3 linked regions of the Homo sapiens genome follow. The protein of the gene in region 1 interacts with the protein of each later gene in a biochemical or structural test. Each region holds a gene or a part of one and is shown on either strand. Other genes may lie near its edges.

The links.
Region 2: the proteins of RC3H2 (region 1) and UBE2B form a complex in vitro, tested with the Homo sapiens proteins (one study listed by BioGRID).
Region 3: the proteins of RC3H2 (region 1) and UBE2G2 form a complex in vitro, tested with the Homo sapiens proteins (one study listed by BioGRID).

The regions. Positions count from the first base shown.
Region 1 is NC_000009.12:122,846,328-122,853,366, reverse strand, and holds part of RC3H2 (roquin-2), read left to right. Parts: intron 1-1,930; coding exon 1,931-2,044; intron 2,045-2,137; coding exon 2,138-2,286; intron 2,287-3,544; coding exon 3,545-3,740; 3' UTR 3,741-7,039. UniProt on the Homo sapiens protein: Post-transcriptional repressor of mRNAs containing a conserved stem loop motif, called constitutive decay element (CDE), which is often located in the 3'-UTR, as in HMGXB3, ICOS, IER3, NFKBID, NFKBIZ, PPP1R10, TNF and in many more mRNAs.
Region 2 is NC_000005.10:134,381,566-134,388,604, forward strand, and holds part of UBE2B (ubiquitin-conjugating enzyme E2 B), read left to right. Parts: intron 1-6,759; coding exon 6,760-6,848; intron 6,849-7,039. UniProt on the Homo sapiens protein: E2 ubiquitin-conjugating enzyme that accepts ubiquitin from the ubiquitin-activating enzyme E1 and transfers it to a E3 ubiquitin-protein ligase. In vitro catalyzes 'Lys-11'-, as well as 'Lys-48'- and 'Lys-63'-linked polyubiquitination.
Region 3 is NC_000021.9:44,770,785-44,777,823, forward strand, and holds part of UBE2G2 (ubiquitin-conjugating enzyme E2 G2), read right to left. Parts: intron 6,634-7,039; coding exon 6,515-6,633; intron 2,904-6,514; coding exon 2,763-2,903; intron 706-2,762; coding exon 593-705; 3' UTR 1-592. UniProt on the Homo sapiens protein: Accepts ubiquitin from the E1 complex and catalyzes its covalent attachment to other proteins. In vitro catalyzes 'Lys-48'-linked polyubiquitination. Involved in endoplasmic reticulum-associated degradation (ERAD).

The sequences.
Region 1 (7,039 bases):
TGGGTGTTTCTCACAGAGGGGGATTTGGCAGGGTCATAGGACAATAGTGGAGGGAAGGTCAGCAGATAAACAAGTGAACAAAGGTCTCTGGTTTTCCTAGGCAGAGGACCCTGCGGCCTTCCGCAGCGTTTGTGTCCCTGGGTACTTGAGATTAGGGAGTGGTGATGACTCTTAATGAGCATGCTGCCTTCAAGCATCTGTTTAACAAAGCACATCTTGCACCGCCCTTAAGCCATTTAACTCTGAGTGGACACAGCACATGTTTCAGAGAGCACAGGGTTGGAGGTAAGGTCACAGATCAACAGGATCCCAAGGCAGAAGAATTTTTCTTAGTACAGAACAAAATGAAAAGTCTCCCATGTCTACTTCTTTCTACACAGACACGGCTACCATCCGATTTCTCAATCTTTTCCCCACCTTTCCCCCCTTTCTATTCCACAAAACCGCCATTGTCATCATGGCCCGTTCTCAATGAGCTGTTGGGCACACCTCCCAGACGGGGTGGTGGCTGGGCAGAGGGGCTCCTCACTTCCCAGTAGGGGCGGCCGGGCAGAGGCGCCCCTCACCTCCCGGATGGGGCGGCTGGCCAGGCGGGGGGCTGACCCCCCCACCTCCCTCCCGGACGGGGCGGCTGGCCGGGCAGAGGGGCTCCTCACTTCCCAGTAGGGGCGGCAGGGCAGAGGCGCCCCTCACCTCCCGGACAGGGCGGCTGGCCGGGTTGGGAGCTGACCCCTCCACCTCCCTCCCGGTCAGGGCGGCTGGCCGGGCCGGGGGCTGACCCCCACACCTCCCTCCCGGACGGGGCGGCTGGCCGGGCGGGGGGCTGACCCCCCCACCTCCCTCCCGGACGGGGCGGCTGGCTAGGCAGAGGGGCTCCTCACTTCCCAGTAGGGGCGGCCGGGCAGAGGCGCCCCTCACCTCCCGGACGGGGCGGCTGGCCAGGCGGGGGGCTGACCCCCCCACCTCCCTCCCGGACGGGGCGGCTGCCGGGCGGAGACGCTCCTCACTTCCCAGACGGGGTGGCTGCCAGGCAGAGAGGCTCCTCACTTCTCAGACGGGGCGGCTGCCGGGCGGAGAGGCTCCTCACTTCTCATACGGGGCGGCTGCCGGGCGGAGGGTCTCCTCACTTCTCAGACGGGGCGGCCGGGCAGAGACGCTCCTCACCTCCCAGACGGGGTGGCGGCCGGGCAGAGGCATTCCTCACATCCCAGACAGGGCGGCGGGGCAGAGGCGCTCCCCACATCCCAGACGACGGGCGGCCGGGCAGAGACGCTCCTCACTTCCTAGATGTGATGGCGGCCGGGAAGAGGCGCTCCTCACTTCCCAGATGGGATGGCGGCCGGGCAGAGACGGTCCTCACTTTCCAGACTGGGCAGCCAGGCAGAGGGGCTCCTCACATCCCAGACGATGGGCGGCCAGGCAGAGACGCTCCTCACTTCCCAGACGGGGTGGCGGCCGGGCAGAGGCTGCAATCTCGGCTTTTTGGGAGGCCAAGGCAGGCGGCTGGGAGGTGGAGGTTGTAGCGAGCCGAGATCACGCCACTGCACTCCAGCCTGGGCGCCATTGAGCACTGAGTGAACCAGACTCCGTCTGCAATCCCGGCACCTCGGGAGGCCGAGGCTGGCAGATCACTCGTGGTTAGGAGCTGGAGACCAGCCCGGCCATCACAGCGAAACCCCGTCTCCACCAAAAAAATACGAAAACCAGTCAGGCGTGGCGGCGCGCGCCTGCAATTGCAGGCACTCTGCAGGCTGAGGCAGGAGAATCAGGCAGGGAGGTTGCAGTGAGCCGAGATGGCAGCAGTATAGTCCAGCTTCGGCTCGGCATGAGAGGGAGACCATGGAAAGAGAGGGAGAGGGAGACCATGGGGAGAGGGAGACCATGGGGAGAGGGAGAGGGAGAGGGAGAGCAAAATCAGTATTTTTCTTAGTTACAGAGTGATTATACAGAAGATGCAACAGATACTAAACCTGATAGGGATATCGAGTTAGAGCTTTCAGCACTTGATACTGATGAACCTGATGGACAAAGTGAACCAATTGAAGTAAGTGCCACAATTAGATAATTGAGAGGCTTTGTTTGATTGAAAATTTATAAAATACTTTCATACTGAAGGATTAACATTTTATTTTCTTAGGAGATCTTGGACATACAGCTTGGTATCAGTTCTCAAAATGATCAGTTGCTAAATGGAATGGCAGTGGAAAATGGGCATCCAGTACAGCAGCACCAAAAGGAGCCACCAAAGCAGAAGAAACAGAGTTTAGGTGAAGACCATGTGATTCTGTGAGTGTTAGACAGAAAATTCATAAACAGTGGGCATAGGACATAATAAAGAGAAAAAAATGCGAAATTAATTTTTGGCTTTATGCTGTGAGGGGAAGACCTTATATGGGCAATGATTTGGTCAATCTGGATTTTTAGGGAAGAAAAAGTAAAATTGAACTAACAAAGCAGTCCATTTTGGTAGCCTGAAACTTGCTTTTTGTTGAGATAAAGTTAATCTGTGTTCCAGCATCAGGTTATGCTTCTTTAATCTGGTTGCCAAATTTCTAGACTACAAAATGGAGAATGACAACCTAGATTAATGGTTTCTCTTTTTGAAAATCATGTTAAGATTTTCTTGGCTAGGCTGGGCGTAGTGGCTCATGGCTGTAATCCCAGCACTTTGGAAGGCTGAGGCGGGTGGATCACAAGGAGTTCAAGAGCAGCCTGGCCAACATAGTGAAACCCTGTCTCTACAAAAATACAAAAAAATTAGCTGGGCATAGTGGCGGGCACCTGTATTCTCAGCTGCCTGGGAGGCTGAGGCAGGAGAATCGCTTGAACCCGGGAGGCGGAGACAGTGAGCCAAGATCGTGACACTGCACTCCAGCCTGGGCGACAGACTGAGACTCCATCTCAAAATTATCTATCTATCTATCTATCTATAGATAGATAGCATATAATATAGTATATTTTCTTGGCTATAATACTGCCATTTTGAATAATTACTGCCAAAAATATGGGCTTAATCTTCAACTTGGTAGTTTGGCCTTAAACTAACTAGTATTTTAATTTTTATCATAACTTTTGGAAAACAGGACTTTTCAAGCCAGGAGTGGTGGCTCACACCTGTAATCCCAGCACTTTGGGAGGCCGAGGCGGGTGGATCATTTGAGGTCAGGAGTTCTAGACCAGCCTGGCCAACATGGTGAAACCCCATCTCTACTAAAAATACAAAATAGCTGGGCGTGGTGGCACATGCCTGTAATCCCAGCTACTTGGGAGGCTGAGGCAGGAGAATTGCTTGAATCCAGGAGGCAGAGGTTGCATTGAGCCGAGATCATGCCACTGCACTCCAGCCTGGGCGACGGAGGGAGACTCTGTCTCAAAAATAGGAAAACAGGACTTTTCTAGTTACTTCTGATACTTCTAGTGATAAAGACATGTCTTTGCTAGAGACTCCTAAAGTTTGCTGTAGCTTTCATTAAATATGTATAGTCACCCTTAACAGTTTGCACTTAAAGCTAATTTGTTTTTAATGTCATTTCTTTTTTCTCAGGGAGGAGCAAAAAACAATTCTGCCGGTAACTTCTTGCTTTAGCCAGCCACTCCCAGTGTCTATTAGCAATGCAAGTTGCCTCCCCATCACCACATCTGTCAGTGCTGGCAACCTCATTCTGAAAACTCATGTTATGTCTGAAGATAAAAACGACTTTTTAAAACCTGTTGCAAATGGGAAGATGGTTAACAGCTGAAAGGAGGTTCATCTTTCAAATTTGTGACCACACCATGGAAGCATTTACACTAGCTTTTTATATATATAATATATATTATATAATGTATATTTTTTTTAAAAAAAAGATATTACTGGGGGCATCCATTTCCTGTGGACTCTTTGATACTTCAAGCCCTCTTGCATTAGCATTATGAAAAAAAAAAAGAAAATTTACTTTACTAGGGTAACATGTTCACTTTCCAGAAATGATTGGAATTTGGACAACATTTAACTTAAGCTTCAAGCAGCTTTTTATGAGTTTGTAGCAATCCGGTGCAGTAACTGAGCCATTTCCTATTTTAAATGGCTTCTATAGAAAATTAACAACTCAGTTATTAAACTAGCAGGATCCTACAATGATACATCTAGTGAAAGTAGACTTAGTTAACTTATTTATTTCTATTTTATGTTTCACTGAGAGAAGTTTCCATCTCATTCCAGCTGCTTTATTTATCTTTTTCATGGAACTTTGCATGGATTTCTTTTTCTTTTTTTAATTTTGAAGAGTGGAGTTAGATGTTCTTACCATAGAATTTTACAGGGTTATATACTAGCATTCTTTACTGCATTATATGTAGGAGTGTGGTGCAGTGCTTTTATCTGTAGCATATAATTTTTTTTTAATTTTCCATTTTTCAAGAGTAGTTTCTGCTTTGTTAATATTTATACACAGGCTACTTGTTGAAGTAATTAATTAAAAATATAACCAAGTGCCTAAGTCTTTCAGCTGATGTACTAGATATTAAATTCTCCTAAGTTATGCAGAATCGTTTTTACAATTTTGATAAATTATGCACTAATGTAATGGCAGTTTTTTAAAATGCAGATTTAAGCCTGTACATTATTGAATCTGATGACTTGGCAAAAGAATCAGGTGCTTTCAGCTTTCTTGAGAAAACCCTGTATGTAGCGTTTGCACTGACTAACAAGATGGTATTGCTGGGTTTTTAATTTAAACTAATTAATTTGGTTGTTCATTGCATTATCTTGGTTAAATATTGTTTATTGTTACTTCATGTTGGGGTTTAGTTTTTCTTGTTTTTTGACTGTTAGGTTGATAAGACTATGAACTGTGTAATAGTAGAACAGTGGCTAACATTTATTCATACTTAAGAACATGAATAATTTCTGCCTTGCTAAAATGTGACTGAAATGGTTTTGACTTGGCATCTGAAAGTATACAATGTGTTCAACAAGTCATGCATCAGATTTGTGGGAGGTATTGTACTGAAACCTAAATTTCAGTCAACATTTGAAAAGAAGAGCTGGGCATTCCTTCCTGGTGATCTTTACCTATAGTTTATCTATCTGTTTTTCTTCTGTTTCTTTAAGATTAGTTTGACTTTTATTATTATTTTTTTAATTAACTTCTGTGAAGTTGTTTACTCTGAAAATTGTACTGGAATATTTTAAGCCAAGCTGATCTTTCACCAGGTGTACTGTATGTAAGGGCTTTTCCTGCTAGCAAGATGCTTAAACAGGATCATGTTATTGGTCGTCTGAGCTATTTAGTTGTTTTACAAAACCACAGCATTGTATCAGATAAGATTTTGATAAAAAGTTTTGTGCACATTTCCAGGGGCGGGAGGGTTGACATTTCCCTGAAATTTCTTGATTAGAATGAGTAAATACTGGTGTTTGATACCTGTCTTAATGAACATGCTCATAAGGTGACTGATAAGTTGTAAATATACCTGAGAAACAAAGGGGTAGTTTTGATATTCTGGTGTCAGTATGGAAGATCTTACACATTTATTTAATACTCAAATGTATGAAGATGTTTGTTTGTAGCATAACAACAGCACAGTAGCCTTGACTTAGTTTCCTTTGGTTAGTACTGTACCTTTTTTGCCATGGCCAGTGCTCCCCATCCCTATGAAGACATTTTATTTATTTCACTCTGTAACCTGAAATGAATAGGAACAAGGGTTTTAAACCATGTTACATTAACTTTTCTGACATTATAAATTAGCCTAGAATATTACAGGAACATGATTGTTATATAATTTATATCAGAACCTTTCTATAAATATGTGCTTATTACATTTGAAATGCTTCCAATGTACTTTATTTGCTGTTTGTAATTCCAAAAAGGATATGCAAACCAGTCTGTCTATTTCATGGATATTTAATAGTGAGATCTTCCATGTTGAAGGTAATGTATTTTTTTTTAAGATTTTAAAATTGCTATTTTGTTACAAAATAGAGACCTATTAACAGTTTGAGAGCTCCTTATGTGCCCTCAGGGAAAGAACCCTCTGTGCAACAGAACTACACAAAACATCTTCAGCACGTTCTGAGGGTGAATATATACTACATAAATTGATCTTGTGTATTTAACCTTATCTTTTTAATTTTAAAATTGAAATTTTGAAACTTGGTTGTGCTCTGCTGGAGGGGGTTGGGATAAACTGCTTAGATGTTTGCCTACTTGTCCAGTGAAATTACATTTGCATCAGTATATGTATATACCTGCCAACCTTATTGGTATGTCTCAGAACATTTATATTAAAATAATGCTTGTCTTGCAGCAGGTGATCCCATAAAACAATAACTCCCTGTTCTTAAAAACTTACTCTCTTTTTCACTAACAACATAGGAATTGTTTCTGTGTTGAGATTATTCTGTGTTGCATCCATTCTCTATGTAGTGGTCACCTTCTGTCTGTCATGGTGGGCTTAATGTGAAGTAAAGCCATTGGTTCTCTGCCACTTTCGAAGAAAGGGCAGTTCATCTGATCCTTCTTCAGAATGGTACCTACTGATATCATCGAGGAAAATGTTACAAATCAGACCTAGGATATGACTTTTTAAAATTGAGGCATTTCCCGTCATTTGGCCTTTTTACCAACAAGATGTGATGTACAAATTTGGAATCAAAGGATACAAAGCAACAAGAGAGGAAATGTGTAATGTGGGTAACCAAACTGCATATGTTACCTATTGTCTAATCAGAAAAAATAGTCTGAGGTCTGGAAAGCAGGAAAGTGGTGGTTATTTTCTTTCATTTTTTGTGTTTTTGTTTTTTAATTTCTAAGTTCCATTCTGAAATCCATGTGCCGCATTCAGTTACTGTGGTTGTAGCATCAGTTTTTTTGTGGTTTCATTTCATTTTATGAATTCAGAGGAAGTTACATATATATTTTTTCTAGTTGGTACCTGAACAAAGCAGATTCCCTTGCCTTTGCTGCCACGTCTTATTTTCAATGCCATGTGATAAACCAGTGTCATACATGAAAGTTGTGCATTGTAATTTTCAAAAAAAAGGGAGTTCATTAGG
Region 2 (7,039 bases), on another chromosome or scaffold:
CCAGCCTTTAGCTATGTTTCTGTAGCTAGACTCTTACAAAGCTTCCAAATTTGAGGTCAAGTTGTTTTAATAACTCCTGAATTAAAAGTAATACATGGTCGGGCATGGTGGCTCATACCTATAAACTCAGCACTTTGGGAGGCCAAGGTGGGCGGATCACCTGAGGTCAGGAGTTTGAGACCAGCCCGGCCAACATGGTGAAACCCCATCACTACTAAAAATACAAAAATTAGTCAGGCATGATGGTGGGCACCTGTAATCTCAGCTACTCAGGAGGCTGAGACAGGAGAATCACTTGAACCTGGGAGACGGAGGTTGCAGTGAGCTGAGCTCACAACACTGCACTTCAGCCTGGGTGACAAACCAAGACTCTGTCTCCAAAAAAACAAAGGTAATATGTAAGCCAGGCACAGTGGTGCACACCTGTAGTCCCAGCTACTCCAGAGGCTAAGGCAGGAGGGTGGCTTGAGGCCAGCCTAGGTAACATAGTAAGATCCTGTCTCTACTAAAAGAAATAGATAAAAGTATTATCTATTTATTTGTGGAATTGTGAAAAATAAGAAAAATCTGTTGGCTAAAATTAAGCTTTTCAAAAATACAATTTTGGCCAGGCGTGGTGGTTCATACCTATAATCCCAGCACCTTGGGAGGCCAAGGTGGGAAGGTTGCTTGAGACCAGGAGTCAGAGACCAGCCTGGGCAACATAGCGAGGTCCCATCCCTATAAAAAACAAAAAAAATATCAAGGCATGGTGGCGCACACCTGTAGTCTCAGCTACTTATGGAGGCTGAGGTGAGAGGATCACTTGAGCCCAGGAGGTCAAGGCTGCAGTGAGCCATGACTGTGCCACTGCACTCTAGCCTGGGCAACAGAGCAAGATTCTATCTCAAAAGTACAATTTTGCATATACAAAGTTGGAGTCAATGACCACACACAGTGGTTCATGCCTATTAATTCCAGCACTTTGGAAGGCTGAGGAGGGTGGATTGCTTGAGCCCAGGAGTTCAAGACCAGCTTAGGCAACATGGTGAAACCCTGTCTCTACAAAAAATACAAAAATTAGCTGGGCACAGTGGTGCGTACCTGTATTCCCAGCTACTAGGGAGGCCGAGGTGGGAGAATTGCTGGAGCCTGGGAGGTTGAGGCTGTAGCAAGCCATGATTGTGCCACCGCTCTCCATCCTGGGTGACAAAGCAAGACCCTATCTCAAAAAAAAAAAAGAAAATTGGGATGTTATATATAAAATAAGGTGTTTTTTTTGGTTTGTTTGTTTTTGTTTTTTTAATATACTGTGAACATTTTCCTTAATAAATATTCTGGGCTGAGTGCAGTGGCTCACGCCTGTAATCCTAGCACTTTGGGAGGCCAAGGCAGGTGGATCATGAGGTCAAGAGATCAAGACCATCCTGGTCAACGTGGTGAAACCTCATCTCTACCAAAAATACAAAAATTAGCTGGGCATGGTGGCGCATGCCTGTGGTCCCAGCTACTCGGGAGGCTGAGGCGGGAGAATTGCTTGAACCCGGGAGGCGGAGGTTTCAGTGAGCCAAGATCGCGCCACTGCACTCCAGCCTGGCAACAGAGCAAGACTCCATCTCAAAAAAATAAATATTCTGATACATCATTTTTAATGGCAAAATGTTCTGTTACATAGATTTATCATATTTTTAACCAGTGTCCAATTGTTGATAGTTTTCAGTTGTTTACAATTTTAAATAGCACTTTGAACATTCTTAAAAATCTTAAAAATTTTTTTGTTGTTGAGAAAAACACTTGCTGTGTCACACAGGCTGGAGTACAGTCGTGTGATCTCGACTCATCGCAACCATTACCTCCCGGGTTCAAGTGATTCTCTTGCCTCAGCCTCCTGAGTAGCTGGGACTGCAGATGTGTGCCACCATACCCAGCTTTTTTTTTTTTTTTTTTTTTTTTTTTGAGACAGAGTCTTGCTCTATCGGCCAGGCTGGAGTGCAGTGGCATGATCTCGGCTCACGGCAACCTCTGCCTGTTGGGTTCAAGTGATTCTCTTGCCTCAGCCTCCCAAAGCTGTATATCCAGCTAATTTTTATATTTTTAGTAGAGACGGGGTTTCACCATGTTGGCCAGGCTGGTTTTGAACTCCTGACCTCAGGTGATCCGCCTGCCTTGGCCTCCCAAATGTTGGGATTACAGGTGTGAGCCACCGTGCCCGGCCTCAAAATAAATCTTTTCAGATACTAATTATTATTTTGATTGAGTTTTTTGTTTGTTTTTTTAATTGCTGCATAACAACTAGACTAAGTTTTTTAAACGTGGGGATTACTGGGTCAGAGGCTTGTGTGTTTTTAAAGCTTTTAATGTCATTTTCCATTTTTTTCCTTCAGTGGAATTGTTCTCATTTTCACTTCATAGAGTAGTTTGTTACTATTCTTCACTAAACGATGGCTAATTCCTTTGTAATAAATTTGGTCTTCCTTGACATCTTGCTGTTTACATCTATTACATTTATATTTCTGTATTATAAATTACCATGTGAAAGACTTCTCCAAATTCTTGAAGCTCCTCTTCAGTCTCACAGCCTTTGCTCATTTAAATGTGGCGTTCCCCATCAGCCAACTCACTTTCAGGAAGAACATTTTCAGAGGTCCTCTTGGTCGTGTCTCTAGTACTGCAGAATACATTATAGAGCTCCCTACCCAGAGGAGAGATGTGTTTCGTTTGTGTCTGGAATCAAGGTGACTTTCCAGTAATAGATACTACCTTTGGCACTTCATTTCTGTGAAGTTGCTTTTTCCTTCTAGCTGCCTTTTTTGCTTTTTTTTTTGTCCAAGACAGGTTTAATTTTATTTTCTGTTTCTCTTTTTGGGGAAGTTCCCAGGTCATTTACCATTTATTCCACTGTAGCTTTATCTTGCTTAGACTTGTTATTGAGTCAAACCAAACCAATTATGATAAGGGGGTCTTTAAATAAAGGTGGGAAAGACTGTAGAATGAGTAAGGGATATAAATATAGGGTTATCACTTAAGCAAATTTTTAAGAAACCACAGTGTATTTGGTTTTCACATCTCTTCATATTTATAGCATGGTTTCCCTTTTATTCTGCTGAGTACTTTTTTATAATTTAACTTTCTGGTTTATTTTTTTAAAAACATTTATTGAAATATAATTTACACACCAAGCTGTTGACCCACTTAAATTGTACAACTCAAATGGTTTTTAGCATAATCATAACCATCACCATGACCACTTTAAAAACAACAAAAAGCCCCATAACTATTATCTTAGCAGTCAACTCTGTTTGTCTTAACCCTCCCCGCTTCAGTCCTAGGTAAGTGTTACCCCTAACGTGTTTTCCCTCTAGATTTGACTATTCTGGATATTTCATATAAATGGAATCTTATACTATGTGGTCCTTTGTGACTGACTTCTGTCACCCAGCATAAAGTTTTCAAGGCTCATCTATGTTGTGATATAATAGTATCTGTGATTCATTTTTTATTGTTGAATAATATTCCACTGTATGGATATTCTGTATTTTGTTCATTAGTTGATAAGATATTTGAGTTCTGATTTACTTTTGGATTCTCAGAAATAGTTACTCAGAACTTTAAAATTGTTTTACACTTTTATGGGTTTTACAGAGTTACTAATTTTTGCTTTGGGCAGCTAAGTTTGATGTTTCTGTGGGATGGACAGTAAGTTGGCTTTGAAGCTGAGAGATAGATCTAGGCTAAGGCCAATGATTGGGAATACTGAGCACATGGATGGTAACTGAGGCCACAGGAGTCAATAGGATTGCCCAGTGTGTGTGTAAAGGGTAAGAAGGAAAAGGGCTTAGGATAGAGTCTGGAAGAATCACAGTGTTTAAGTGTGATTTGCTCCCCACTCTCTGTTATGGTTTGCTCCATGAAATGGTATCTGTAACATTTAAATGAATTTACTCTTTGTTTTACATAGCAGTTCACTTCTAGAAATTTTTTCTACAGATAGTCTCACAATTGGGCAAATACTTAACGTTCATTGCTTGTATTTTCACAGAATCAGTCTAAAAAGGGAAGAACCCTCCCAGATGTTCAGGACTTTTGATACCTGTTAGTCACTTGATTTTTTTTTTTAATGAAAGGAATATGTATACTCATTGCACAAATAAATCATAAACACAAGGAAGGATAAAGAAAATAAGATAGGCCAGGCACGGTGGCCCACGCCTGTAGTCCCAGCACTTTGGGAGGCTGAGGCAGGTGGATCACGAGGTCAGGACTTCGAGACTAGCCTGGCCAGCATAGTGAAACCCCGTCTTTACTAAAAATATAAAAAATTATCCAAGCATGGTGATGTGTGCCTGTAATCCCACCTACTTGGGAGGCTGAGGCAGGAGAATTGCTTGAACCCAGGAGGCGGAGGTTGCAGTGAGCCGAGATCACGCCACTGCACTCCAGCCTGGGTGACAGAGCGAGACTCCATCTCAAAAAAAAAGAAAAAGAAAAGAGGATCATCTGCTGGGGGCGCTGTGGCTCACACCTGTAATCCCAGCACTTTGGGAGACCGAGGTGGGCAGATCACCTGAGGTCAGGAATTCGAGACTAGCCTGGCCAACATGGTAAAACCCCATCTCTACTAAAAATACAAAAATTAGCTGGGTCGTGGTTGTACATGCCTGTGATCCCAGCTACTCGGGAGGCTGAGGCAGGAGTATTGCTTGAACCCAGGAGGTGGAGGTTGCAGTGAGCCGAGTTCTCACCACTGCACTCCAGCCTGGACAACAGACTGAGAATCCATCTCAAAAAAAGAAAAAAAAAAAGGGCCGGGCACAGTGGCTCATGCTTGTAATCCCAGCACTTTGGGAGGCCGAGGCAGGTGGATCACCTGAGGTCAGGAGTTCGAGACCAGCCTGGCCAACATATGGCAAAACCCCGTCTCTACTAAAAATGCAAAAATTAGCTGGGCGTGGTGGTGGGCACCTGTAATCCCAACTACGTGGGAGGCTGAGGCAGCAGAATCCCTTGAACCTGGGAGGCGGAGCTTGCAGTGAGTTGAGATTGCACCATTGCACTCCATCCTGGGCAACAAGAGCGAAACTCCATCTCAAAAAAAAAAAAGGAAAAGAAAATAAGATCATCCATAACCCTACTATTACAAATATCCACTACTTACATTTTGACATTCGGTCTTAGAAATGTTTTTTGACTACATATACTTTAAATGAATTTATATAAAACTTTTTAATCAAAATAGGAAATTATAAATAATTAAAAACTTATTTTTAAGGTAATAGTCTGTGGATGTCTTACTCTATAAACAGTAGATATGTATCATTTCTGGTGATTGTGTTGCTATTGCTTATATGAATGTATCAGTTGTTTATTTAGCCAGTTCCCTCTTTTATGGACCACAAGGTAGAATTAGTTTTTCACTTTTTTTTTTTTTTTTTTAAGATAGAGTCTCGCTCTGTCGCCCAGGCTGGAGTGCAGTGGCGTGATCTGAGCTCACTGCAACCTCTGCCTCCTGGGTTCAAGCAATTCTTCTGCCTCAGCCTCCTGAGTAGCTGGGACTACACGCATGCACTACCATGCCTGGCTAATTTTTGTATTTTTAGTAGAGACAGGGTTTCACCATGCTGGCCAGGCTGGTCTCGAACTCATGACCTCATGATCCACCCGCCTCGGCCTCCCAAAGTGCTGGGATTATGGGTGTGAGCCACTGCGCCTGGCCTTCTACTCTTATAAGTAGTATTATAGTGAACATCCTGTAAGTAAATCTTTGTGCATGTCCACGTTTATTTCCTTAATTTCTAGGAGTGTAATTGCTATGTCAAAAATAAGCAGTTTTTTAAAAGCTTTAAGAATATTTAGAAATACGGAATTTAAATAGATTGCTAAATGATGTGTGTTGAAGAAATTTAACTCAAAGCCTCCTGATCATAACATGCTGTCTTAGTTCATTTTCTGCTACAACAGAATAGCAGGGACTGATAATTTGTAAATTTGTAAATAATAGTAGTTTGTTTGGCTCATGGTTCTGGAGACTGGGCAGTCCAAGAGCATGGCGCCAGCACCTAAGCAAGGTCCTTGGTGCTGTGACATCCCATGGTGGAAGGCAGAATGACAAGTGAGCACACAAGACATAAGAAAAGGTGCCAAACTCATCCTTTTATCTGGAGTACACTCCTGCCCTGAGCACTCATGACCTAAGCACTTCTTAAAGGTCCCACTTCTCAACAGTGTTACAATGGCAATTAATTTTTTTTTATTTAATTTTTTTACTTTTATTTTTTTGAGACAGGTTCTTACCCTGTCATCCAGGCTGGAGTGCAGTGGTGTGATCTCAGCTCACTGCAACCCCTGCCTCCTGGGTTCAAGCGATTCTCCTGCCTCAGCCTTCCAAGTAGCTGGGATTACAGGCATGTGCCACCATGCCCGGCTAATTTTTATAATTTTAGTAGAGATGGGGTTTCACTGTGTTGGCCCGACTGGTCTCAGACTCCTGACCTCAAGCAATCCTGCCTGCCTCGGCCTCCCAAAGTGTTCAGGACTGGCGTGAGCCACCGTGCCCAGCCTCCAGCAATTACATTTCAACATGAGATTTGGAGGGAACATTCAAACCATAGCAGGTGCAAAATAAGAGACCTTAGTTTTAAGACAGGTTATCCTGTGATACAGAAGAATTTAGTTATTACCTAATATTTAAAACTTCTAAGCCAAGCATTCTGTTTGGTAAAGATTTCTCTTAACTGTTAGATATGGCAGAGTGTGTAACTAATTTTAGTATTGTCTTTGCAGTGTATGCTGATGGTAGCATATGTTTAGATATCCTTCAGAATCGATGGAGTCCAACATATGATGTATCTTCTATCTTAACATCAATTCAGGTAAGTGTGTGTTAGGATGTATTATAATTTGTCAGTATTCTGTAGGATATAGTCAGCTCCTTAGCACACAGGTAACCAATGGCAGAGCTTGGACAAGAATCCATGCTTTTCAGCTAACTTTTCTCTTTCAGTAGTGCCTACTTGGGATCCAGTCTGCAGTCCCTTTCCTGATTGTGTAAGTTACATGTTCT
Region 3 (7,039 bases), on another chromosome or scaffold:
TGGAAGTATTTCTAAGTGTGATGGTTTGTAATATATAACAAATGAAAAGATGTAATTAGATTATAAGAAAAGCATCTGCCTGTAAAATATGAAGGAAGAAAGGAAGTAATGGACTCCTCATGGGGCCCACAGGGAACCAGGAAGGACCCAGAAAGGGTGCCGGGCCCTTCCCCTGTGCTGCAGCTACAGGGCCCCATTTCTTCAGAAGGAGCGTTCTGGGTATTCCATCGTCCCCTGGAAGTCTGGCAGGTACAACCCCCTCAACACTCCAGGGAGGGAGGGAATCCACAGGAAGCCATGAACTGCTGGTTTCAGCGGGGAGAGGTAGTGCTGACAGCTCTGATAATCTACCTGAAGCCCTTTGTGAGGAATACTGTAAAACTGCAGTAAGCTGTCAATATTCGACATTAAGTCATCATTTCAGAAGAGAAGCCTGTTTGAAGTAGGAAAGGTTTGAAAAAAAAAAAAGATGCCATGGTTCTTGCAAGTCTGCCTTGTTTGGTACCAGCACAGAGCATCACTGTCACTAAGTGTGCCGGGGGAGAATGCTGAGCTGCTTGGCGGTGTGTGCGCGCCTGTGCGAGGCCAGGTCTCACAGTCCCAGAGACTTCTGGACGATCTGCTTGGCAATCTTATAGAACTGCTCCCGGTCATCGCGCCACATTTTGGACGCATCCACGTTAGCTCCACTTTCGTCATTGGGCTCTGAAAGAAAAGGGAACACCCTCCATGTAAAAGGGAGTCTTATACGTAAGCAGCCTGGCAAGGTCTCCCATTTATTTAAAACACTGGCGGGGGCTTTCAAGAGCTGTGTCCCAGAAACAAAGAACCTGAGAACTGCATGGGGTCGGCCCCACCTCTAGAGTGCTGGCCACGCAGGTCTCAACGAAAGCCACTCTCATGACTCCTGCGTTCTGAGTGTCTGAAGACACCAGGACAAGTTGTCATCTGTCTTGCTGTGGAACATGCGACAACCACCTAAGCACAGGCCCACACGGCCTCCCACAGCAGCCTCCTGGGCCACTGCACTTCTGGCACCCGGACAAGCTACACGGGGACCACCTGCTGCTTATTTCACCTTTCTCAAGACACTCTGCAGTGTGGCTTCTCTCTCACAGAGCGCCCTCTCAGCAAAACTGCCCCTCACAGCTCCTACCAAGACAATCCCAAGCAAATGTGCAGCCTAAGGTAGACACCTGACCCCAGGATACCTGACCCACCCCCTAGCCAGCGGCACTGGCAGTCACTGCAGAACTGCAGTTAGGAGGCACGGAGGGAGTAGCCAGGGCCTGCCGGAAGGCAGAACGGAGAGAGACCACCAGAACTGGATGACATGTGCTGAGGCAGCAGCTGTGCAGTGCGGCGGTGGCGCTGCTCAGAATGCACGTGGGGACCGGTTCAGAGCAGAGTTGATGAGGATAAAACCCACAGCTGACATCTGAGGACAGCCTGAGCCACTGCCTCCCTCCCAATCTCCAATCCCCTGGCCTGGCTCCCTCCACTCAGCACATGAAGAGGGTTCACGCCTCAGCCCTCTCAGGATACACACTCGCGTCACAGGCCCTGACCTCACATCCCTCTAGACCCCACTCCACGGCACCCAAAGGCTCTGCAGAGAATAGCTGAGTGGCCTCACTCTGGCATCGACCCCTGGCCCTCTGCTGGGTCTGCTCTTTCCTTTCGGACTTGCCGCCTTCCTTTCCCACACCCTTCCTCCTGACTGCCCTGGAAGACCCCTCCCTGCTATGCTGTCACCCTCCGTCCTACTCCATCACCTACTGCCTCATCCAGAAATGACCCCACATCTTCACTCTCGTGTCTGACCCCCTTTTGTGGATGGAGGCCCCTTGTCCCACACACCTCAAACTATTCCCCAAATCCTGCTGTCTCCTGAACCCAGAGCAGCACCTCTGGTAGACAAAGAACCAGGAGTCCCAGAGCCTGTACCTTCAAGGTCTCCCAAACCCACCCCTTCCTCTTAGCCCTGGGACCACTCAGCCCTTCTCTTTTCTCTCCAGGCTACTGCAACACCACGATGTCTCTGTTTGTCTTCCATCACACTATTGGTTACTGCTGCAAGGATGGCCCTTCGAAGGCACAGCTCACAGGACATCACACCCCCAACTCCAATCCCCAGGGTCTGCTGGGGCTCCTCTCCCTGCAGCCTTGGCTCCAGCCAAAATGAGCTGGCAGTGCCCCCATCAAGTCAGCCACCTCCTGCCTCTGGGCCTCAGCCCAGGCTGCTTCCTTTGCCCCAAAACCCCATTCCCTCCCTCCTACCTCATCAACACCTACATGTCCTAAACACACCCCAGACAGCCCCACCAGGAAGTGGCCCGAGAGTCCCTGCATGTGTCTGATCTTAGGGTGCATCCCACTGGCCTCTAACTGCTGGTAGGCTTGGACAGTTCCCTAGAACGTAGGAACAAAGAGTTGGGGTCTTTGTCACACGAAGCTTTACACCCCCAGTCCAGTGTGTGGCATGTAGTGGGTCCTCAATAAACACCTACTGAGGGAAAAAGACGATCAAGGACCAGAGACCAGTTAATTATGGCCGACAATACAATATACAACCCCAGGCTATGCTAGAAGGTATGCTTACAATTGGAAAAGTGTAGGCAGATAACATTAAATGGCAATAGCATGTGTAAACTAACTGCAAATGAGGAAAAGGACATTCTAAAGACAGGATGACGCAAGGCTGGAGAACACCTGCAGCCTGGGTGTCCACGGCAGCTCCTGCCAGGAGGCTCGGGCCTTACCTGCCAGCATGCTCACCACCGACAGCAGGATCTTCTCCACACTCTGCACAGGACTCCACCGCTCCGCGCTGCTCTCGTAGCCCATGGGGTCATCGCCTGGCGCGTGGAGGATGGAAATGCAGACTCTCCCATCAGGGTAGACTGCAAGGGTCAGAGGCAGCCAAGTGAGCCCAGGAATGGTGCCCGAGGCATCGCCGCGCTTGGGCAGGCTCCACAGATAATGAGAACAAAGACTGCAGACACAGCAACCAAGCTGTTTGCACAGCTGGGGCATAGCCTGGGGCCCTGAGTGTCACGCTTCATGTCTGCAGGAATCCCGGTGGGGCCTGCTCACTCACTGACAGGCTCCAGGCTGACCCAGCCAGTTCTAATCAGCTGTCGTAGTCTAATCCACTTTCATATGAATTTTTTTCAAGCAATATATACAAAAAGACTAAATGAAAGGTTATCTGGCAAATATTTTATCAAAATATCTAATGTGATTAGGATTATTTACAATACTTTTCAGAGCTAGTTCCTTAGCTATTTCTAATTCTATCATTAAATCCCTGAACCGGTCTGTGTAAAATATATGTTCACATGGCTATGATAAAGGCAACTGGAATTATGTAAATATCTACAAAAAGAAAGGCACCAGGATTTCTCTTGGTAGCTTACTCTAATAATAAGTAAATTATCATCAGTACAACCTGGAATGTAGGTCAATGTGTCTAAATCAAATCCCTTTCCACCAAATATCATCATTAAAAAGATACACAAGGTCTGATAAAGAGAAATAAATTTTCAATTCACAGCATTTAATCAGTCCTCTTTTACATAAAATTGGGAGGAATTCTCAGATGGCTCCATATATACTCAGATATGCAGTAATCCATCTAGATAGACTCAACTGTAAAATTATAAAGCCATTAAAGTTATAATAATAGAAATAGCAATTTTAAAATACATTTATTTAACTCACCTGAGTTAATAAGCTCTGAATTTCATGAAAATTCACAAATGTGAATGGCGATCACTTACCTTCAAACAGTCTTGTCTTTCATACCTGGTCCTATGTGTTTCCACTCATCCATTGTTTCAGTGGTGAACGTTCAGTGGTGAACGCTCTACTATCCAGGAACTGAACCACAACTTCTCATTCAAGGAGAGTGGAAGAAACTAGATGCATACTTGCCCTGGACATCAGGCTGTCCACCTAAGATCCACATCCACAAAATCAGGAAGTTTCCCACTTCTGTGTTGCCTTCTCCAGGAGTTGGTCCCATAGGGTGACACTGCATCCACAGAAGCATCAAAAGCACCTGTGTCCCTGCCACAGCCCCTCCTTCACCAAGTCCCAGCAGTGCCATGTCCTAAACCTCTCGTGGATCCACACACATCTCTTTATCTTTAGTGCCCACATTTAGTTCCCAAGTTGCCGGTGTCTCTACCCTAGACCACTACAGCCGAGGGCCTGCCTGGCTTCCTCCCACCTGTCCTTTGCACTGTACCCAGAGCGAGCCGTCAGAGATCATTCTGGTCATGCCACTCCCTTGGAGTCTTTCAATGGAGTTCCGCCACTCCCAGGAGAAAACATCAAAACCTTCAGTATTGACCAAAAGGCCTGAGGTAGTTTGGCCCCGGCCTTCCTCTCCCGTCACTTCCTGCGCTGGGCCTTTGCACATGTGAAGGGCCCCTCCTCCCCGAATCACTCAGGTAACTCCTGCTTCACTCCCTACAGATGGTCCATCCAACCACCACCTCTGCAAGGTGCTGCCCAGAACTTCCTGATGTGACTTTGCATTTTGTTTGTGTGATTCTCCTATCAATGTCCATCCCTGTCCTTGGAATATAAGCTCCTGAAGGTCTGCTATTATTTGCTCACCACTGTATACCAGCAACTTTCAGTACGTGTGTTGAATTGTTTTTAAAGTATTTATTGACTAGTTTTTATGATATTGGTAGACCTATAGTTCTCAAAGATAATTTTTAAAAAATCAAAATAATCCAATTACAGTAAGGCAAAAATTTATATTATCTGAGCATTAAAAATAATTACCAGAACATTAAAAATAATAATCAGACCACCTGTAGTACATAGTCACATAAGGTAATCAGTTTATTGGTCATATTTGTCACTAATGCCATGTCACAGGTATTGTTCTGAATAATATATTTCTCCTCAATACAATCTTAGTATTTTAATTACCTACAATCCTCTTCATAGTTGCATTTTATAGCTAACCAATTTGAAACTACTTCAATTACTCTTACCTATCAATTGTATTTTTTAACTTTTTATTATGGAGAATTCCAAAAACACACTCAAGTAGACAGCGTGTGATGAACCTCCATGTTATCATCTAACTCAGGCGCATGGCCAGTCTCCCTGAAAGAAGGCACGCTTCTGAGCATCCCCTGTGCACACAAGACTGAAGCAGCTTTGAGATAAGAAAAGAAGTACCAAATGGTCTCTCTCAGGCAGCCGCCCACTACCTATGTGTACCAATATCTGCAGTAAATGAGAAGTCCTAAACGAGGGTTAGGACAGCAAGTCTATTGGCAGACGGCATTTCCACCAGTGAAGTGGCCGGGGGTGGGGGGGTAGTCCTGAAAACCCCTATGGCAAAGATGTAAAAGGAAGAATGTAAAAGGAAAAAATAAAAACTACAGCTGTTCAGAAATTCCAATTCCTACTACTGGACACATTTTCAAATAAGCTACAGTACAATTCACTTAAATGACCTTATTTTTTTCCTCCTTTTAAAATTAATATATATTAATTTTAGGGCAAAAAAAGATTTACAAAAAGGAAAAAAAATTTCAATCTGAAAAAAGAATCACTTTTAACATTTTTGTGCTTACTTTTCCAGTTATATATACATTTACATGTGAATTTCTTTTTCAAGAGGAAATTATAACAGTGCTACTGCTTTTCCCAGTCAATATAACACAAATACTACTTTGTATCATTGATTCTTCTTTTAGATCATTTAAAAAATCTACATCACATTCTAACATATATGATATAGTTTGGGTGTGTCCCCACCCAAATCTCATCTTGAATTGTAGCTCCCATAATTCCCACATGTCATGGGAGGGACCCAGTGGGAAGTACTGAATCATGGAGGCACATCTTTCCCGTGCTGTTCTCGTGATAGTGTACAAGTCTCACGAGATCTGATGGTTCCGTAAAGGGCAGTTCCCCTGCACACACTCTCTTGCCTGCCGCCACTAAGATGTGCCTTTGCTTCTCCTTTGCCTTCTGCCATGATTGTGAGGTCTCCCCAGCCATGTGGAACTGTGAGTCCATTAAATCTCTTTCCTTTATAAATTACCCAGACTTGAATATGTCTTTATTAGCAGCGTGACAACAGACTAATACAATATATAACTTAATTTATTCTTGTGTTAAAAACCCAGGTTAAGTCAAAATTTTCACCATTACAAATAACACTATGACAAAGATTAGCATAACCCCTTCTGAGCACACACCCATGTGTAAAACTTCCTCCCCAGTGAAGTAGGGTGGCTGGGTCAAATGGCATCCGGTTTTAGGTGCCTGTTGTCTTTTATCTATATTAAACTGACCTTCAAAATTGAAATCATGTGCTTAATACCACCATGCTTACTTGGCTGAATTTCAAAACATAAGAAGTGTTTTCTAAAGATCTACATCATAGACATATAGAATATACCACATTTCAGGTGGCTGATAATATTATCTCCGTACCTATCCTGGTACCACAAAAACTACTTCCAAAAGCACTTACTGTTGGGATGAAACATCTCACAGGTAAATCTCATCTTTGGGGGACTTAACGGGTAATCAAGTGGGAAACTCAGGATGGCAGGAAAAACACCAAACTCAAAGCAGGTGTCTTCTGGGCCCCTAGAAGATATAAAATACGTAGACTGAACTTCAAAGTACATTTTTCAACGTCGACCACAATTGACAAATGGGTTAAGAACATTTTTACCACTTTAAAAATGCACGTGAGGCCGGGTGCGGTGGCTCACGCCTGTAATCCCAGCACTTTGGAAGGCCGAGACAGGCAGATCATCTGAGGTCAGGAGTTCAAGACCAGCCTGGGCAACATGGTGAAACCCTGTCTCTACTAAAAATACAAAAATTGGCTGGGTGTGGTGGCGCATGACTGTAATCCCAGCTACTTGGGAGGCTGAGGCAGGAGAATCGTCTGAGCCTGGGAGGTGGAGGTTGCAGTGAGCCAAGATCTCGCCACCGCACTCAAGCCTGGGCGACAGAGCGTGACTCCGTCTCAAAAAATAAACAAAAA